2 linked regions of the Homo sapiens genome follow. The protein of the gene in region 1 interacts with the protein of each later gene in a biochemical or structural test. Each region holds a gene or a part of one and is shown on either strand. Other genes may lie near its edges.

What was found. The genes of interacting proteins can lie anywhere in the genome.
Region 2: the proteins of CRP (region 1) and CFH form a complex in vitro, tested with the Homo sapiens proteins (12 studies listed by BioGRID and IntAct, with this or other methods).

The regions. Positions count from the first base shown.
Region 1 is NC_000001.11:159,711,782-159,719,422, forward strand, and holds CRP (C-reactive protein isoform 1 precursor), read right to left. Parts: upstream 2,809-7,641; 5' UTR 2,705-2,808; coding exon 2,644-2,704; intron 2,358-2,643; coding exon 1,744-2,357; 3' UTR 508-1,743; downstream 1-507. UniProt on the Homo sapiens protein: Displays several functions associated with host defense: it promotes agglutination, bacterial capsular swelling, phagocytosis and complement fixation through its calcium-dependent binding to phosphorylcholine.
Region 2 is NC_000001.11:196,655,040-196,662,068, forward strand, and holds part of CFH (complement factor H isoform a precursor), read left to right. Parts: intron 1-7,029. UniProt on the Homo sapiens protein: Glycoprotein that plays an essential role in maintaining a well-balanced immune response by modulating complement activation.

The DNA of each region.
Region 1 (7,641 bases):
ATGCCTTCCCTAGGTAACCATTTGATATGCAGGAAGCCCCATAATTCATTCCTGGCTATGGTCTTTATGGAGTAACTTCTACTGGTCACTTAGTACTGAAAGACAGTGTTGAAGGACACTTCTGGAGGAAGCCAGCTGCTGTCATCTTTGAGGGGTCTGTTTCTACAAAGAACTTGAACCCGCTGGGGCAAGTGCATTCCAGTCACTGAACCTGGCAGCAGATCCATGGATCTCAATGATCTTTAGTTTTTGCTCCTCAAATTGGAATAATGATAGAATGAGAGTACTAAAACCCCCACAACTGGCCCTACATGAATGGCCAGCTATCTCAAAAGAGGGACTGTGCTTGTCAGAGGGAATCCCTTCAGGGGACTCTTGGACAGGTTAAAGTGCCATGGATATGTTGTGTAATGGGAAGTGTAAACTTACAGGGACTTGATTTCAAAGGTCATTAGAGAAGTTAGTCACAACTTCTAAAGCAACTATCAGAAAACAGCTTGGACTCACTCAAGTAAACAGGGGCTTTATTGGCTTATAGACCTGGGCAGTCCAGGTGTAGATCTGGTTCCAGACAAGGCTGATTCAGAGACTCCACGTGGTCAAGGCTCTGTTGTTTGTCAATCCCTTGGCTCCTCCACTTCCAGTTTGGCTTCTGTCCTCACAGTCTCTCTCCATGTGGCAAACAAGATGGCTACTGGTGGTCCCAGGTTCACGTCCTCTCAGCTTGGAAATCCAGCAGCAAGAAGATGTCTCACTCCCAAAGTCCATAACTCAATCCTTGGGAAGACTGTAGTTGGTCCTGCTAGGAACACGTAACTATCCAACTATCCTCCAGATAGGGAGCTGGGGAGATGGGAGATGGGCTCCTCTGACAGGACACCCTGTGGTTCACGTCCACTCTTGTGGCCTGGGTATATTGGGAATGCGGGGATGAAGAAAGAATTCACAGCCCCACAAGGTTCGTGTGGAAAAGGGGAGGAGTTTCCCAGAAGAGCCATAAAATTAAGAAAGCACTGCAAGCAAACAAAAACCAGTCATTTAAGTTCTTGGCAGTAACAACATATTTATACCTAGTGCTTCATTTTGCTCTGGAAAAAAAGCAGATCTGCTCTGCTGGGGCAATTCTAATGGCCTTTCCAGTGTGCTTTGAGAAAGTGGAGGGACTGCGTGGTATTGCTGGGCTTCCCATTTCAGGAGACCTGGGCCCAGCAGTTCTATGACATGATGATGAGCACTCTGGACCCAAACCAGACACCTGGCCAGTGTCCTGATTCTGAGACTGAAGAGCCCTGTGAATGTGGGCAATGCCCTCCTGCTTTCTGGGGGTCATGGGTGGGGAATTAAATAGAAGATCAGCGCTTCCTTCTCAGCTCTTGCCTTATGAGTTTTTTATAACATCATTTCTCCTTTCTGGGTGTTAGTTTTCTCATCTATGTGAGGTAAGAAATTATCTCCAAGATCTGTCCAACTTGAAATAAAAATGAAAACAAAACACCTCAAATTCTGATTCTTTTGGACCGTTTCCCAGCATAGTTAACGAGCTCCCAGACCAGACACTTTACCTCCATTCTCAGGCGCTGAGGAGGGTGGAGCAGGCCTGCAATGCATATAGGGGAACAAAGGCCCAGAGACAGAGACGTGGGAACCATGCAGTGTAAAAAAGCGGGAGGTACCAGAGACAGAGACGTGGGGCCCATGCGGTGTAAAAAACCGGGAGGTACCTTCAGGACCCACAGCTGGGCCTCAGGGCCACAGCTGGGGTTTGGTGAACACTTCGCCTTGCACTTCATACTTCAGTGCCCGCCAGTTCAGGACATTAGGACTGAAGGGCCCGCCAAGATAGATGGTGTTAATCTCATCTGGTGACAGCACAAAGTCCCACATGTTCACATTTCCAATGTCTCCCACCAGGGACTGGCTTCCTTCAAAGTTCCCACCGAAGGAATCCTGCTCCTGCCCCAAGATGATGCTTGCTTCTGCCCCCACAGTGTATCCCTTCTTCAGACTCTTCCTCACCCTGGGCTTCCCATCTACCCAGAACTCCACGATCCCTGAGGCGGACTCCCAGCTTGTACAAATGTGTACTGGAGCTACTGTGACTTCAGGAACCTCGAATAATATTTCAGACCCACCCACTGTAAAACTGTATCCTATATCCTTAGACCAAAATATGAGAATCTCATTGTCTTGTCTCTTGGTGGCATACGAGAAAATACTGTACCCACGGGTCGAGGACAGTTCCGTGTAGAAGTGGAGGCACACAGTGAAGGCTTTGAGAGGCTTCGTTAACGGTGCTTTGAGGGATACATAGGAAGTATCCGACTCTTTGGGAAACACAAAAGCCTTCCTCGACATGTCTGTGAGCCAGAAAAACAAGCAAATGTGAGAGGTTTCTCAGATCACACAGATCTATCCCCTCACTTACGTATAGAATTTAAGATTGAGAAACAGACTGACCCCTTCTCCAGTTACACACCACACACACACACACACACACACACACACACACACACACCATGAAGGATGCTCCACTGTTCTGTTCATACAGTCTTTTTTTTTTTTTTTTGAGACTGTTCATGCAGTCTTAGACCCCACCCCCATACCTCAGATCAAATCTCTCCCATAGCCTGGGGTGGCCCTTACCTGTCTGGCCAAAAGCATGAGAGAGGCTGGTCAAGACCAAGAAACACAACAGCTTCTCCATGGTCACGTCCTGCTGCCAGTGATACAAGGGCCTGAATTCACTCCTTTGGAAAAGATGTATTCGGCTGAAAGTTCAGGGGCTAGAAGTCCTAGATCTCTTGCCTTAGAGCTACCTCCTCCTGCCTGGATTTATATCCAAAGCAGTAAGGGAGTTTGCGCCACTATGTAAATAATTTTCCAACATTGCTTGTTGGGGCAGGTGTCAGAGCTTCGGGAAGAGGGGAAGCAAAATTATTTCAGAACAGAGAAATCAATGTGAGTTATTTATTACAAACTCCTATGACTACTGAATTACCAATTCTTTATGACAGGAAAAATGAAGAAATCTCTCAGGGCTCCACTTTGGCTATCTATCCTGCGAAAATAATGGGAAATGGTAACATATTAAACGAGTGGCCATCTGGGTGCACGTGGTAGCTGCCTCTCCAACACCTACTTCAGCCCAAATCATAGAGTTTGACAAAGGAAATCTGACAGCTTCTGGAGATGGACATTATCACTAACCCCTTTCAATTTGCTTATTTACAGACTGGGAAATGAGGAAAACAAACATGCTCCTCCCAGAGCCATGGACACATTTTTTTATTATTATTATACTTTAAGTTTTAGGGTACATGTGCACAATGTGCAGGTTAGTTACATATGTATACATGTGCCATGCTGGTGTGCTGCACCCATTAACTCATCATTTAGCATTAGGTATATCTTCTAATGCTATCCCTCCCCCCTCCCCCCACCCCACAACAGTCCCCAGAGTGTGATGTTCCCCTTCCTGTGTCCAAGTATTCTCATTGTTCAATTCCCATCTATGAGTGAGAACACGCGGTGTTTGGTTTTTTGCATGGACACATTTTCTCAGCCAATTGAGTACACTTATTAAGAACTCTCTAGACATCTTGGCACTAAATGACGGCCCTGACAGTAAAAGTCCAGTAAAATGTGTGCCTGATCACAGACATAGCATTATATCAAAGTTTCTTCCAACATTTTTCTCTGAATATGTAAAGCTTCAGGCAGGAGTCAGGATAATCTGATTCTACTCTTTCCTCTATTCACAAGATTCAAGTAATCCCTCCACACTGTCTGTCAATCTTACTACAGTTCCCTACTTAACTCACTCTTCAAAATGACTATTATACTCCTTCTCCTTGCTCCTCAAGTCCCCAAAATCTCATTTATTCTTTCATTCAGCTGATGAACTCACCTTTCATTGAGAAGTTAGAAGCAATCAGAAAAGAACCACCGTATCCTTTGTAGTAGAGTCTTCTAGCCATTCCCTAACATCCATTCTCTACTTCTCATAAGAGAAGAATAACATTTTCAGTTGGGCGCTTGGTCATCCCCTCAAACACCAAATTTCCCAGCCCCCACTGTAGCTTGCAGTGATGATGTGATTAAATTAAGGCCAACGAGATATGAACAGAATAGGGACCATCTCTAGGTTGTGCTCTTTAAGAAAGGTATGTGCTTTCCCCTCCCACTTCCCCCTTTTTCCCTTTGACTAGTATTCAGTCATGATAGCAGGAGATGGAATAGTTCACTTTCAGGCCAGCAAGTGTAAGCTGCATGTTGAGGTTGGCATGGCAACAAGATAGATGGAGCCTGGATAATTGGGTATGGAGCCACTGCATCAGCTCTAGGCTGCCTACCTGAAAATTTACTTAAAGGAGAAATACTCTCCTCTTTTGTTAAATCACTGTTAACTCAGTCTTTCTGTTCTTAACACCTAACTGATATCCTTATATATCCTCCTACAACCCAATGTACCAGCCTTTCTGTCTTCCTCTATTAAAAGGGATGAGCTCTCCCTGTGTTACATCTAAGGCCAACCCTTGCAATTCTTCAGTGGATCCCAGACCCTGTCGACTATGCAAGGAATTTTGCTCCTATAGGTATCCTCTCTATCTTCTGTATTATTAATTTATTCATCTTTACTTGATCATTTCCACAAAACCATACTATAATATATTTAATCTTTTAGAGAAAGAAGAAAGAAAAGAGAAAAAAGGAAGGATGGGAGGGAGAGAGGGAGGAAGGAAGGAAAAGTTTACGTGGGTTGACAACCTCTATTTTCCATCTCCTGTTCCCTCCTCAATCCATGGAAATCAGCCATTGGCCTTCACCACTCTAGTGAAGCCAACATAAACAAACACCTCTCTCATTAAATCTAATAATGAATTTTCTGTTCTTATTTTACCCAGCTTCTTGGCAATATTCAACACAGTTTATAACTTCCTCCTGAATTCTTTCTTTTCTTTTCTTTTTTTTTTTTTTTTGTGAGATGGAATCTCGCTCTGTCGCCCAGGCTGGAGTGCAGTGACATAATCTCAGCTCACTGCAACCTCTGCCTCCTGGGTTCAAGTGATTCTCCTGCCTCAGCCTTCTGAGTAGCTGGGATTATAGGCACACGCCACCACACCCAGCTAATTTTTTGTATTTTTAGTAGAGACGGGGTTTCACCATGTTAGCCAGAATGGTCTCAATCTCCTGACCTCATGATCTGCCCACCTCAGCCTCCCAAAGTGCTGGGATTACAGGCATGAGCCATCATGCCCAGCCAACTTCCTCCTGAATTCTTGCTCCTAGTTTAAAAGTGAAATAATTTCAAGGCTTTATGCCTAAAAGAAGTGGTCCTCTGTCCCACCACTCTCTATCTGATATGGTTTGGCTCTGTGTCCTCACCCAAATCTCATCTTGAATTGCAATCCCCACATGTCAAGGGAGGGACCTGGTGGGAGGTGGGTGGATCATAGGAGCGGTTTCCCCCATGCTGTTCTCATTTTAGTGAGTGGGTTCTCACAAGATCTGATGGTTTAAAAGTGTTTGGCAGTTCCTCCCCACCCTCTATCTCTCCTGCCACCTTGTGAAGAAGGTACCTGCTTCCCCTTTGCCTTCTGCCATAATTGTAAGTTTCCTGAGGCCTCCCGAGCCATGCAGAACTGTGAGTCAATTGAACCTCTTTTGTTTATAAATTACCCGGTTTCAGGTAGCTCTTTATAGCAGTGTAAAAACAAACTAATACAGAAAATTGGTACCAGGATAGTGGGATACTGCTATAAAGATTCCTAAAAATGTGGAAGCAACTTTGGAACCAACTAGGGGCAGAGGCTGGAAGAGTTTGGAGGGCTCAGGAGAAGACAGGAAGATGTGGAAAAGCTTGGAACTTCCTGAGTTTTGTTGAATGGTTTTGACCAAAATGCTGATAGTGATATGGAAAATGAAGTTCATGCAGAGGTGTCCTTAGATGGAGATGAGGAACTTATTGGAAACGGGAGTAAAGGTCACTCTTTCTATGTTTTAGCAAAGACAATGGTGGCATTTTGCCCATGCCCTAGAGATCTGTGGAACTTTTAACTTAAGAGACATGATTTCTTGAATGCTTTGGTGCTTAAGAAATTTCTAAGCACCAAAGCATTCAAGAAGTGACCTGGCTTTTTCTGAAAACATACAATCATATGTGTTCACAAAGAGATGATCTGAAATTGGAACTTATGTTTAAAAGGGAAAGGGAGCATAAAAGTTTGGAAAATGTGCAGCCTGACCATGTGGTAGAAAAGAAAAACCCATTTTCTGGGGAAAAATTCAAGCTGGCTGCAGAAATTTGCATAAGTAATGAGGAGATGAATGTTGATAGCCAAAACAATGAGGAAAATGTCTTCAGGTCATTTCAGAAGATCTTCATGGCAGCCCCTCCCATCAGAGGTCCAAAAGCCTAGGAGGAAAAAATGGTATCATGGGCCAGGCCCAGGGCCCCGCTGCTCTGTGCAGCCCAGGAACATGGCACCCTGTGTGCCAGCTGCTGCGGCTCCAGCCATGGCTAAAAGGGGGCAATGTATATAGCTCAGGCCATTGCTTCAGAGGGCACAAGCCCCAAGCCTTGGTGGCTTCCAAGTAGTGTTGAGGGTGCAGATGCACAGAAGACAAGAGTTGAGCTTTGGGAGTTTCTGTCTAGATTTCAGAAGATGTATGGAAACACCTGGATGTTCAGGCAGAAGTCTTCTGCAGGCATGGAGCCCTCACAGAAAACCTCTACTAGGGCAATGCAGCAGGGAAATGTGGGGTTGGAGTCTCCACACAGAGTCCCCACTGGGGCACTGCCTAGTGGATCTGTGAGAAGAGGGCCACTGTCCTCCAGATCCCAGAATGGTAGAACCACTGACAGTTTGCACCTTGTGCTTAGAAAAGCTTGCAAGTGTTCAATGCCAGCCTGTGAAAGCAGCCACAGGGGCTGTACCCTGAAGAGCCACAAGTATGGAGCTACCCAAGGCCATGGAAGCCTACCGCTTGCATCAGCATGCCCTGGATGTGAGACAAAGAATCAAAGGAGATTATTTTGGAGCTTTAAGATTTCATGAGTGTCCTGCCAGATTTTGGATTTACATGGGGCCTGTGGCCCCTTTGTTTTGGCCAATTTCTCCCATTTCAAACAGGACCATTTACCCAATGCCTATACCCCCACTGTATCTTGGAAGTAACTAACTTGTTTTTTATTTTACTAGGCTAATAGGCAGAAGTGACTTGCCTTTTCTCAGATGGAACTTTAGACTTGGACTTTTGAGTTAATGCTGAAATGAGTTAAGTTTGGGTGACTGTTGGGAAGGTATGATTGGTTTTGAAATGTGAAAAGAACATGATATTTTGGAGGAGCCAGAGGTGGAATGATATGGTTTGGTTCTGTGTTCCCACCCAAATGTCATCTCAAATTGTAATCCCCATGAGTTGAGGGAGGGACATGGTGGGAGAAGATTGGATCGTGGAGGTAGTTTTGCCCATGCTGTGCTCATGATAATGAGTTCTCACTAGGTCTGATGATTTAAATAAAAGTGCTTGGCAGTCCCCCACTCACACTGTCTCTCTCCTGCTGCCTTGTGAAGAAAATGCCTGCTTCCCCTTCACCTTCCACCATGATTGTAAGTTTCATGAGTCCTCCCCAAACAT
Region 2 (7,029 bases), about 37 Mb from region 1:
TAATATTACTATAATTTCAACCAATCTGTCATTTACATGGAATGACAAATACACTGAATACATATTTTAGGATAGTTAAATTTAGTATTATTCATAATTTACTTTGAATTATTATCATCTGACAACTTCCCTGAAACAATTTCAGTGGGCGGGGGAGGGTAGAAATGGATGTTGATGAGGATAAGAATAGAACAAAGTGATTCTGGAAGATGGGGTTTTCCCAGGTAGGACAGATCTGCTGGTTGAAGTGCTATAGTGAGTGCTATAAGAGAAGGGGTAGAGAAAATGCCCACAGAAATGGCACGAGCCTGAGACGTCTGCCAAGGCAAGCTTTGCTTATTTTAAATTTAGGCATATCCTGGGAATGCATATGCTACTCTTTTGCCTACATATAATTTAAACTAAAAATGAAATATCTAAGTATTGCTAACTAAAATTATTCTTAGGTAGAAGTAAGTTCCCAAATATAAGTTCAAAAGCAGATTGGTAAATGTTCTTCATGTGTGGCCTTTGGTTTCTAAGATCTGAGCCAGTCTACATTGACCCACTTTTATTTGCTTAATCCTCGATTGTTTATTCTGCAGTCTTTTGCCACTTTTCATTCTTCCCAGTTATGCCTTCTCCTCCTCCCCACACACACCATCCCCCACCTGCCTAGGCCTTTGAGATTCTGCCACCCAATCTATCCCGTGCTCAGTTAACTAACGTGTACTTTACCCATTTCTTCACAAAACCATAGTACATGGAAAGGGGATGATGTAATTGACAAAAAAGTATTGCATTTTAGCTTAAAATTATAAGGAGTCATAAAAAGATAGCTCAGAGGAAATAAAGTAACTGAACATCAAAAAATGAAACAATAAAAAGGAAAGAAAAAACATTTGACAGAACACTTTTATTTCTTCTGACATTTTAACTTAGCCAAGTTTTTCATAAACCTTGTTAACTGGAAATGTAATAGATAGAAAAGTGATTATTCTTCCAGGCCGGGCATGGTGGCTCACACCTGTAATCCCAACACTTTGGGAGGCCCAGGTGGGTGGATCACCATGTCAGGAGTTCGAGACCAGCCTGACCAAAATGGTGAAACCCCATCTCTACTAAAAATACAAAAATTAGCCAGGCGTGGTGGCGCGTGCCTGTAATCTCAGCTACTCAGGAGGCTGAGGCAGGAGAATTGCTTGAATCAGGGAGGCGGAGGTTGCAGTGAGCTGAGATCATGCCATTGCCCTTCAGCTTGGGCGACAGAGGGAGATTCCATCTCAAAAAGAAAAAAAAAAAAAAGAAAGAAAGAAAGAAAGAAAAGGAAAAAGCAATATTCTTTCAGAAACTCCTGAACTGTAACATAAATTTAAGCTTAGGACACATAGGTCAGATGTACAATGGAATTACAAATGTTAGAGTTTCCTGGGTTCTTGCAACAGAGTTTTAAGTGCACTAAACAGTTATCACCTTGTCTTCTCTTATATTTTCTAGTCACTACTGTCTACTACGCTTTTTCCACAGGCTGTCCATAATCTACAGATATAATGGAAAGGCTTCCAGATAGTTTCATTGTTACTCATCTGTTCTTTCGCTCATTCATTTTTCCATCACTTTAACTTCCACAAGTACTACTTAGTAATACTTGGTACAATGTGTGTTGCGTTTTTTTTTTTTTTTCTCTATTTTCAGGGTCCTAATTGTACTGTCTCTTTGTGGCTGAGTTCGTTTTTTGTGACTGGAACAATAACTGGCATTAGAAATTAGCTATTCAAATACACATTTCAAGAAAGTTGTGGAATTTCAACCCATGTTCTGATAGTATCTTGTTTTATCTCTAATTATGACATACTTGTTATTCTATCCAACTTCATGTGACTATCGTCTATTCTCCTATCTGCTTTTTATGGTTCTGGAATTTTCTTCTTGCTCTTTTCACTGTTAAGTTGTTTGTTTGTTTGTTTGTTTGTTTTGAGACAGGATCTCGCTTTGTTGCCTGAGGCTGGAGTGCCCACGCTGGAGTGCAGTGGTGCGATCATAGTTCACTGCAGCTTCCAACACCTGGGCTCAAGCAATCCTCCTGCCTCAGCCTCCCACACCTAGCTAAATTTTTTTCTTTTCTTTTTTCTTTTTCTTTCTCAAATGCCTATTAAGTGTGACATAATCTCTATTCTGCTTTGTCTCTAGAGTTTGTTTCTTTAAACAATTCTTTACTCTGTTTACAAAGGTATATATGTTACTTCTGAAATGATCTTTATTCTCATGTTATTTATAAAATAATTTGAATATTTCTTATTTTGAAAAGCTAATTAGATCATATCGTATATATGCATATAGAATTGACCCTTGACCAATATGTGCTTGAACTTCAGGGGTCTGCTTACTATGTGAATTTGTTTCAACTAAACCTGGGTCAAAAATACAGTATTGGTGGGTTGCAAAACTTAAGCATAGGAAAAACTGACTTTTCGTACATGCGGTTTCCAGAGAGCCAAATGTAGAATTTAAGTATGTGCAGATTTTGGCCTGTGTGGGAGTCCTGGAATATATATCCCCTGTGTATACCAAAGCCAAAGGATTATTGAATAAATAGTATTACTATAGATCAGTGAGAAGATAAGAAAGAAATTTAATGCAAAATACCTATTTTTGCTATTTCTGTTTTGTTCATTTGCTTTATTTTTTTCCAAATTGATTTTGTAACTTTGCTTTATAATATATTCTGATACCTACTAAGTTTAGAAGTAGGCTATTTAAAAAATAATATCTACTGTTTTTTATGCACAAAATAATTTTAGAAAAATAGAATAATTGAACAAAGAGACCAACTTTAGTCTACCAAAACAATCTAGCACAAATTTGATTAAGGATTTCCCAAATATATAATTTTATCATGATTTATTTCATTTGAATAAAAACACTTTTCAACTAACAGTTAAAAGATATATTGACATTGAAAATAAGTAATTAGTTCTATGTTTGTATGTCAATAATAAGTAATTAGCTTGGTGTTTGTATGTCAATAATGCCCCCTTAAAATTTGAAAGTGAAAAAATTAGGTAAATTAAGATTATTAAAATATTAAGTAATATTGATTTTTAGCTTTGACCAAAATTATATAACTATTTTCCTCAAATTATAGTAAAAACATTCCTACTCTTTACCAGTAGTTAAACGTATTCACACTCTTAATTCATGGGCTAAAAAAAAACTTGATTTTGTTTAGTATTATTCTTACTTTTTTGAGACAGGGAATCACTTTGTCACCCAGGCTGCAGCGTACTGGTGCAATCATGGCTCACTGCAGCCTCGACCTCCTGGGCTCAAGCAGTCCTCCCACCTAAGCATCCCAAGTAGCAGGGATTACAGCCACCTTGCTCAGGTAATTTTTTTTTTTTTTTTTTTTTTGAGATGGAGTCTTGCTCTGTCGCCCAGGCTGGAGTGCAGTGTCGCTATCTCGGCTCACTGCAAGCTCCGCCTCCCGGGTTCACGCCATTCTCCTGCCTCAGCCTCCCGAGTAGCTGGGACTACAGGCACCCACCACCAAGCCCGGCTATTTTTTTGTATTTGTAGTAGAGACGGAGTTTCACCGTGTTAGTGTTAGTCAGGATGGTCTGGATCTCCTGACCTCGTGATCTGGTGATCTGCCGGCCTTGGCCTCCCAAAGTGCTGGGATTACAGGCATGAGCCACCGCGCCCGGCCTGCTCAGGTAATTTTTAAAATTTTTTGTAGAGACAGGGTTTCACCACGTTGCCCAGGCTGGTCTTGAACTCCTGGGGTCTATTGATCCTCTTGACTTGGCATGTCAAAGTGCTGGGATTATAAGCATGACCCACTGCATCCAGACTAAAACTAATTTTAAATTGTAAAATAAAGCCAAATGAATTAAAGCTTCACCAATGTAGTGTTTTGTAAACAAAATTAACTGGCAATTAAATGACTTGTAAACGTAAGATGAAGTATTCATTGTTTAAACTCAAATACTTAGATATGATGGCTTAGTCTACTCATTAATCTAGAATGAGAAAAATGAGATGGCTATTTCTTTTAGTTTTAAGATAAATCACATCTCAAAAAAATGTTTCTGTGCCTTTCAATTTGTATGCATCCTATTTAATAAGCCCGTTGTACATACATGCTGAGAGTTTGACTACTTGGGCCAAAATAACCGTTTGTTGTCTACTTGAAGGTGGTTCAACTGAGCTTGAACATTCGATTGTTAGTCAATTCAGGCAAATAAAAGTTATGTCACAAGATATACCTAATTATTATTAGAACTCAGTGCAGTGAATCATTACCTTAAATACTTTTGCTATGGCATGAGTTGATAATGATGTAGGACAGCAAGCCCCCAAATTGGGTCTTAGCCTGGGAAGGTTCTTGGTTTTGTCCAGTAAAGAATTCAAGGGTGAGCCTGTGGTGTTAAACAGCAATTTTTGTTGAAGTGGCAGTGTATAGCAGCCTCAGAGGCACCTCTCCTTGCTAAGCAGGGCTACCCATAGGCAGTGTGCCCACAGTAGCAGCTCAGAGGCAGTTCTGCACTCATATTTATATGCACTTTTAATTATATGGAAATTAAGAGGTAGTTAATGCTGAAATTGCCAGGAGGAGGATGGTAACTTCCGGTTGTTGGGTCATTGCTGTGGAAAGGGCCTGTAACTTCTGGGTGTTGCCATGGTAATGGTAAACTGTCATAGCACACTGGTCTGTGTGTCTTACAGGGAGGGGCTTCCACTCAGACCTGTTTTGGATAATCCTCAATTTGGTCCAGTGTCCAAGTCCCATCTCCTATCTCAATAATACTCAATACAATAATGGTTAGAACAAAAGCAGACAGGAAAGTGTATCTGAAGTGAGAAGACCTAGACATTAATGAAAATTCTTCCACGAACTATGAAAAACATTGTTCTTCAATTGTGGGGAGCTTACATTTTGATGTGGGGAGATAGATAGAAAACCTAATGAACAAAAATAGTTATAGCATTGTGAAAAATTTTGTGAAGGAGGTAAAGTAGGGCCTAAGAGAAAATAGAGATGGGGATGGTAGTATGTAGAGACATTAGGTGGGCTTGGTCTTGGGGACTAGAATGAGTGGATCACTTTGAGGACAGAACATTTGAGTAGAGGCCTGAAAGATGAGACAAAGCCAGTCATCAGAAATCTGTCGTAAAATTATTCTAAGAGGAGGAAATAACCCGTGTAAAGGATCTAAGGAAAAAATAAGTTTGAAATGCTCAACAAAATATAAACAAATAAATCAGCGTGACTTTGCACAGTAAATACATGGGAGATTTAACATGATGAGATCCGAGAAAGTGGCAAGAGCCAGATAAGGGGTTCCCAAACCAAGGAAAGGAGTTAGCAATGCTGGATAAGTAAAAAGTGAAGTCATAGAAGAATTTTAATCACAGGAATGACATGACCAGATTTGCAAGAATCACTTGTCACTCTGTGAATAGACTGAAGTAACAGGAGAGTAGAGGACTGGAGGCTAGTTAGCAGGCAAGTTTCATGACCAAAGTGACAGATGATGATCTGAACTAAGATTTTGAAGATGGTAGTAGGAGCAAGGGAAAATAGAACAGGGGCGGTCATATCTTTTTCTTACAAGCAGAATCAAAAGATGCCATTTAACACTGATGGAAAAAGCACCAGAATTTTAAGTACTATTTGAAGAGAAAAGGTAATCAATATGATAATTCTTTATATATAGTAAACATATTCACAGAGTAAATATTGTGAGAAGTTGGTAGGAAGATTTTGTGGAAGAGATGTATCCTTGTTTTCTACATCTGGTTGTTAAAAGCAATGAACTATATTTGGAAATCAAGAATTAGGGGCACAAACGTATCACCTGGAAATATAATAATAACCAGAAGGGAAAGCATTTACTTCTCACTAGGAAGTGAGCGGGCTAAACTTTTTTTGTGTTAATGGATTACTTTACTTATTTATTTTTTCCAATAACCTGAACATCATCAAATGGATCTAAATTTTGAAAGTGAAAAACAAACATATCAGCTTGTAATTAATCAGTTTTCCTTTTGTGCGGAAGGGGCCGGGGATTGTGTTGTTATGATAGAGTATTAGCACCATCTAGTGGAGTAGAATATGTTTACTTAAATTATAAACATCGAAATAGTGCAATGTGGAATCACATATTATATGAGTTCACTAATACAAATTTGCAAAAAGGTCAAGGGAAAATTAGTGCCCATAAAAACTTTCACATTATTTTGTAAAATATAATTTTATATGGTGTTTTCTTTCTTATGAAATATTGCAAAATGTTTTCATATGGATTTGTTCCACCATGTTAATGGGCACTTCTAAAACTTTTTTCTTTGGGCTGCTACAACAAAATATTATTAACTGCCTAGCTTATAAACAACAGGAATGTATTTCTTACACTTCTGAATGCTAGAAAGTCTAACAGCAAGATAGTACCAGCAGATTCAGTGTTTGGTGAGGTCTGCTCTCTGGTTCATAGACAGTGCCTTTTGGCTGTGTCCTCCAATGATGAAAGGGACAAGGCAGCTCTGTGGTGCCTCTTCTATAAAGGCACACATCCCAAATCATGACAGCTCCACCTTCACGACCTAATCACTTCCCAGTGTCCCCACCTCCTAATACTATCACATTGGTAATTAGGTTTAAACATATAAATTGGGGGTTGTGGGGAGGTTGCATGTATTCAGAGCATAGCATATGCCTTCTTAACTTACTAAAGTCTAATAATAATTTATCACTCAGGATTCAATGCGGGAAGCTTAAGTAGAAGTAGAAGATTACCTATCTATCAGTCAATTAATTGATTGACATACCAATCTCCTATCTACCTACTTAAAAAGAGGTTTTGTTTTGTTTGTTTTGTTTTGTTTTGTTTTTTAAATAAATTGCCTCAAGGAATTGTGAGCATGAGATAAGCAAGTCTGAAATCCACAGGGCAGGTAGTCAGAAAAGGAAGATTACAGACAGGATGGAACTCACAGGAAAGGAAGCTGCTTTCCACAGAATTCCCTCTCTTTTTCAGAGGAGCCTCAGCC